Homo sapiens: one gene and its partner. The protein of the gene in region 1 interacts with the protein of each later gene in a pairwise test. Each region holds a gene or a part of one and is shown on either strand. Other genes may lie near its edges.

Region 1 (3,500 bases):
CAACCTACTTCATATTCGTCTTTTTTTTTTGAGACAGAGTCTTGCTCTGTCACCCAGGCTGGAGTGAAGTGGTGCTCTCTTGGCTCACTGCAACCTCCGCCTCCCGGGTTCAAGTGATTCTTCTGCCTCAGCCTCCTGAGTAGCTGGGACTACAGGCACATGCCACCATGCCTGGCTAATTTTTGTATTTTTAGTAGAGACAGGGTTTCACCATATTGGCCAGGCTGGTCTCGAACTCCTGACCTCATGATCAGGTCAGGACGCCTGCCTTGGCCTCCCAAAGTGTTGGGATTATAGGCGTGAGCCACCGCACCTGGCCTTTTATTTTTTTTGAGACAGAGTGTCTCTCTGTCACACAAACTGGAGTGCAGTGGTGTGATCTCAGCTCACTGCAACCTCAGCCTCCCAGGTTTAAGCGATTCTCCTGCCTCAGCCTCCCGAGCAGCTGGCACTACAGGTATGCACCACCATGCCTGGCTAATTTTTGTATCTTTAGTAGAGACAGGGTTTCTCCATGTTGCCCAGGCTGCTCTCCAACTCCTGGCCTCATGTGATCCATCCACCTCGGCCTCCCAAAGTGCTGGGATTACAGGCGTGAGCCAGCGTGCCCAGCCCATATTCATGATTTTTTAGAACATCCTAGCAATGTAAGTCTAGATCAGGGAAGGCCTGAAATTGCACTCTAATTTTGAAATGATCATGAATTTGAAGTAAGTTCCAATACTGACTCAGACATTTAGATTCATTCTAAGATGAACCAGTGAATGCAATGTCACTCAGGAGTTACCTCAAATCCCAGGTATAGCCAAGGATCTACTTACTTCCTTGGGATTTTCTGGTTTCGAAATGATCTGACCCTAGCTAGAGCTCCAACTGATGATATAGTTCATAGTTAGACACTCAGACTTTCTTACAGCCGTACTGAGTATCAAAGGTTAAGCTTAAATGGAACTAATTGTAAAGAGTATCATAAGGATAGTAAACTTTTATGTAACTATGTAACTTATCTGTCCATTCAGCACACACACTTAGCAACTGAATATAATAATAATTTCTGTACTTTGCTAAGAAATCTGTAATGATTGGATAAATAATAGGCCTTGAAAAAAACTGAAGTGTTTGAAAATTCATGCTTAAATAATTGATAATATAAGAAGAGTTTTATTAAATATAACAACTTTTAAAAGCTTTATATGATGCCTTTGAGGACATCAAAATGCATAATAGTACAATTCTTAATTTCACAACTTTTCAAGTGATAGTTATTTTTGTCCCTTTATGAAATACCACACAGATCAGAAGGTTTGTGGCTTGGGGTAGGGACCTATTGCCTTCTACTTAACTGCCGTATTTCTGGATTTGTACTTTATGTGCTTCTTCTTTCCTTCCTTGATATTTTCCTAGGCAGTCCTGTTCAGAATGAGCAAGGCTTTGTGGAGTTCAAAATTTCTGGGCCTCTGCAGTACATGTGGTGGTACCATGTGGTGGGCCTGATTTGGATCAGTGAATTTATTCTAGCATGTCAGCAGATGACAGTGGCAGGAGCTGTGGTAACATACTATTTTACTAGGTAAGAATATGTTGTTATTAGAAAACTCGAGTTCATCTAAGGGATGGTGTCCGCAGGCTGGAGGGGAAGGGAATCAGACTGGGGCTGGCAGGAGTTTCATTTCTTTAACAAAAGAATTAGAAATGAATATGACAGAGTGTTATATATAGTTGATAATTCTGGGAGGTGGTCAAATGAGAGATTGTTGTTTTATTCTTTATACTTTTCTGCAGTTGTCTCATAAAATTTATTGCGATGTCACAAATTGTATTTAGCAGAAGAATAAATCTTATAGTGGTGCCATATGTACTTTTGCTTTATATAAAAGTCCATCAAAGGACAACAAGTCTTTTTAGTTTGTTTAGACCGGAACAAGTGTGAGTTCCCTTTGCTAACTTTAGAGCCAAATATGAAAGCTTTAGGTCTCATAATTTTCTATTATAATTAGATGCCAAGTCTAAATTTAACATCTTTTTAAATTCTGTTTTCTGATGACCCCATAAGTATTCACTAATAAAAGCTTTCAGAGCACAGTTTTATTTAACTTGAAGTATTAGAGCATCAGAACCCCATGAAACTACCATAGAGCAATGACATTAATTTTATATAGCATGTCTGTAGCATTTGTAATAGTTATATATCACTTGGCCATTTTGTCATAAAGCTAAAATAAGAATGATGAGCTGATTTTTTTTTTCACTGCGTTGGACTCTAAACCATACCTGTGTTTCCATCCTGATCTAGGCTTTGTTTTAATTGTCTTTTTGGTCATTTTTTAAATAGGGATAAAAGGAATTTGCCATTTACACCTATTTTGGCATCAGTAAATCGCCTTATTCGTTACCACCTAGGTACGGTGGCAAAAGGATCTTTCATTATCACATTAGTCAAAATTCCGCGAATGATCCTTATGTATATTCACAGTCAGCTCAAAGGAAAGGTAAGGGGAAAATGCATTTCTGTACTTTCTGTGGGCACATTCCAGACCTCAGTTCTGCATGTAGTAAAGCACCCAATAATGTTAAATACAAAGTTGTGTTTTCTTCAAAGTCTTTACAAGGCAAAATCCAGCCCTTCTCCCTTGTCTCCCACTCATGCACTCCATATGCTCTGGCAAAATTCATCCAGTCACTAGTAACTAAAAGTATCCTGTGCTGCTCTTCCTCTCTGTTGACTCACATACCTTCCTCCTTAGAACTTCTTCCCTTCCTTGACTGTGGGAATAACATGCACTTCAACTAGTTTAGCTCAAATTCTACTCCTTTGTAGAAACCTTTCCTGATTCCTCCCATCTCCCAAACAATGCTGTCTCTTTGTTCTCCACTCTCATAACACTTAGTATCTATACTATATTCTGATTCTAACCTTTTTTGTGTTTGGTATTTTTTTTCTCCTACTAGATTGTAAGTTCCTTGCAGGTGTTATAAACTTCACTGTATATGCAGTAGAGACTAAATAAATATTTAATTGAACTTATTAAAAATAATTCAGTCATTATGTTTTAAGGAGAAAGTGGACAAGTATGGAGGCTTTGAAGCATAAATTGTGATTTTTAAATTTTTATTTATTTTTCTAACGTTTGAAGTCTTCTATGTGACAGTTTGATTCTTTGGTTTTTTTATTATTTCCATTTTTCCCCCATCCAGGAAAATGCTTGTGCACGATGTGTGCTGAAATCTTGCATTTGTTGCCTTTGGTGTCTTGAAAAGTGCCTAAATTATTTAAATCAGGTAAAATATTTTAAAAATAAATCTAATATTTACTTTCAAAGATAGGTTCATTGTTTCTTCTCCCAAGATAAACTTAATTGAAAGATGTTATGTTTTTCTTGTGGTATTGTACATTGTGCCTTGATAAAGTATGTCTATTTCAATCATATTCTTATTTTTTAAATTAATGTATATGCTTACCAAGGCTCATTATTATTTTAATTTTTTCCAACTTTTAGGTT
Region 2 (3,194 bases), on another chromosome or scaffold:
CACTTGTTAAGATGGAGTTATAACTGTCATACATTTGGAATATTATGATCCCAAGTAGTCTTTTTATAATTTGGATTGTATCGTATGTTAGATTTTTGATAAAATTTGGCCAATTTTTACAGAAGAAATTCTCTGATCATTTAGTTCTGTCTATTTAGAAATATGTAAAACTGGATTTTTTTTTAAGTAATATGTGACCAAAGTTAATTTTGTCCCAAAGGTCTAAATAAAGAGCAGTTTCCCATATTTGGCTGTGATACCTTTATCCTCATTATCTACAAATGAGGAACAGGCTTACTGATAAGAAGCTGAAACAAGAAATTCTCTTCATTTTATCCCAGTGCTATTTTATTGATTAATTACTAAAAAGTATTACTTTCTAATTTTATTGCTGTTTCTGTTGGTGTGAGATTAGAATCATCTGACTGCTATTAGGTGGTTGATTTGTATAGCTGATTAACACAAATTGCATTATGAGCTAGTAAATGGATCTTTGGATAATGGGGTCCAAATTCTTAATGTTTATAAGTAACAAGTTCAAAGGCTTTAGTCACACCTGTTTGTGAGCTGAGCTATTATACATCTACATACTTAAAGGATGTATTTGGAGTGTTGGATTTTTTTTTTTTTTTTTTTTTTTTGAGACGGAGTCTCATTCTGTCGCCCAGGCTGGAGTGCAGTGGCGCGATCTCAGCTAACTGCAACCTCTGCCTCCCAGGTTCAAGCGATTCTCCTGCCTCAGCCTCCCAAGTAGTTGGGACTACAGTCATGTGCCACTACTCCTGGCTAATTTTTTGTATTTTTAGTAGAGTTGGGGTTTCACGGTGTTAGCCAGGATCGTCTCGATCTCCTGACCTCGTGATCCACCCACCTTGGCCTCCCAAAGTGCTGGGATTACAGGCGTGAGCCACCACGCCCAGCCTTGGAGTGTTGGAATTTTTAAAAATTATTCTTATGTCACTTTGAAATGTAGAACGTGTTGCCATGTGCGGTGGCTCACACCTATAATCCCAGCACTTTGGGAGGCCGAGGTGGCTGGATCACCTGAAGTCAGGAGTTTGAGACCAGCCTGACCAACATGGAGAAACCCCATCTCTACTAAAAATACAAAATTAGCTGGGCGTGGTGGTGCATGCCTGTAATCCCAGCTACTCAGGAGGCTGAGGCAGGAGAATCACTTGAACCCAGGAAGCGGAGGTTGCAGTGAGCCAAGATCACCCCATTGCACTCCAGCCTGGGCAACAAGAGCAAAACTCCATCTCAAAAAAAAAAAAAAAAAAAATTTAGAATGTGTTAGAGAAATTTAACAAGTAGAACAGGTGATTTCTGGTTGATAGACTCTATCTTGCAGTATATTTATTTCATGTATCAGACCCCAAAGTTGTTGCCTTGTTATTTTTTTAATTTCTCACATTTTTGAAAAATAGATGCTATCCTCTATAGTAAAATATTGAATCACTTTATAGTAGACAATACATATGACATTTAACAAATACTTGGTTTGAAAAAGTTTGGCTTTATTCAACAATTTTAGTTTGCCCACTGATTTTCAAATGTCTGTGGGATTGCTTATAACTAAGTAGAAAGTGAAGACTGATTTTTACTTAAGAATGGGATAGAGATGAGTTTTATGGTTTTTAAAAGTATTTTCAGTTCATTATTTAAATGTTGGGTTGTTGATATGGTCTTGTTTCTGATAAGGAAATAGGAGCAACTTGTTTTAAAATAACTACACTAAAAGACTTTCTTCATCTCCGTATAGAGAAATCCAGATTTCAATTAATTCATTTATTGGGTGCTAACAAAATTCAGGGTTAGAGTAAATTTAGGTCTGTTGGTCCATGTGGCCTGGTTTCCTAGCACCCATTAAACATAATGCTATCTTTTAAGCCTGAACATGTGGGTTTTTTAAATCAAATTGGAAAAAAATTAGACAACTGATGTCATGCTGTCTTGGTATCCATACTAAAAAAGTATCAGGAAAATAGATTATTTTTGTGCTGTGAAACACTATTCAGTGGAAAGTTTAGTGGCAACTTTTCCATATCATTCATGACTTAATACCTGAAATGCACTTTTAAATGTTTGCCTTATATCCAAGTGTTTACTTGTATCCATGACCTAACCGTCTATTGAAAAGAATGTTTGCAGATGCAGATTGCAATGTTGTTTGTATTCATAGGCAAAAGTCCTCTTCTCTAGTATAATTTTTTAAATCTGAGAGAATTGAAGGTACAGAAAAAAATTCTGGAGTGCCTGAACCACAGTTTGAGAGCACAAAGGTCACATTCTTTCAGTAAATTTGGGGGAAATAAATTTCAGCTACCTGGTTAGCTTCAGTGACTACTTACACACAGGGCTTTGGTTCCATTACTTGTTTCCACCACAGCCACATCCTAAATACTTGGAATATCCGAAAACAACTTCTAAAATCACTCAATAAAAGTATTCACTTCTAACCAACTCCTCCTCCTTTATACCTGCTCTGTGTTAGGGCGTAGTCTGTTTCCACCTCTGTAAGTCCTATCTAGGCTTCCTGATCTATCAATTCAGTATCATGATTGTTAACCCAAACGACTTCCTGGAAAATTCCCAGCCCTAGATGTATCCAAGCCCTCCTACCCTCACCAGTTATTTCTGGAGAAAGATCACCAAATGTATAAATCCGTATTAGTAAAAATTGGTTTTAACTGACCTCAGCACTGCCCATTACCCTTATTTTCTCTAGTCGGTTCTCCATTCTTACTATGTAAAACTTATACTCTGAAACTTGTTACCCTCTTTTTTTCCTTCACTCTTAACATGTCCTTGCCTTCTATCTTACATAAAAATAGAGACCTTCAGGCACAAATTCCCTGAACTTCACTTACTAAATCCACAGCCATGGACAAGATTCTGTGCTCTAGGTTGTGACATCCCAACTCTACCACAGGGCTAAACTCGGTGACCTTGAGCATAAGTTGATCTCTCTGGGTCTCCTTTCTGGGTAAGTAAAATGAGGATAGTAACAGTAACCCCCTTTGCATAGTTAGTTATTGTGAGACTTAGGTAAAATGAACAAAAAGCTTAGTGCATAGATAAGTGATCAGTAAGTGCTGGCTCCTGGTTCCCACCACCCCCTCTGCCGCCCCGAGATGGGGTCCTGCTCTGTCACCCAAGCTGGAGTTCAGCAGCATGATCATGGTCATGGCTCA

The links. Proteins that work in one complex are often made in the same cells at the same time.
Region 2: the proteins of SLC44A1 (region 1) and C11orf58 interact in a two-hybrid assay, tested with the Homo sapiens proteins (one large-scale study listed by BioGRID and IntAct).

What each region holds. Positions count from the first base shown.
Region 1 is NC_000009.12:105,363,151-105,366,650, forward strand, and holds part of SLC44A1 (choline transporter-like protein 1), read left to right. Parts: intron 1-1,404; coding exon 1,405-1,570; intron 1,571-2,332; coding exon 2,333-2,489; intron 2,490-3,195; coding exon 3,196-3,279; intron 3,280-3,500.
Region 2 is NC_000011.10:16,755,647-16,758,840, forward strand, and holds the end of C11orf58 (small acidic protein), read left to right. Parts: 3' UTR 1-2,694; downstream 2,695-3,194.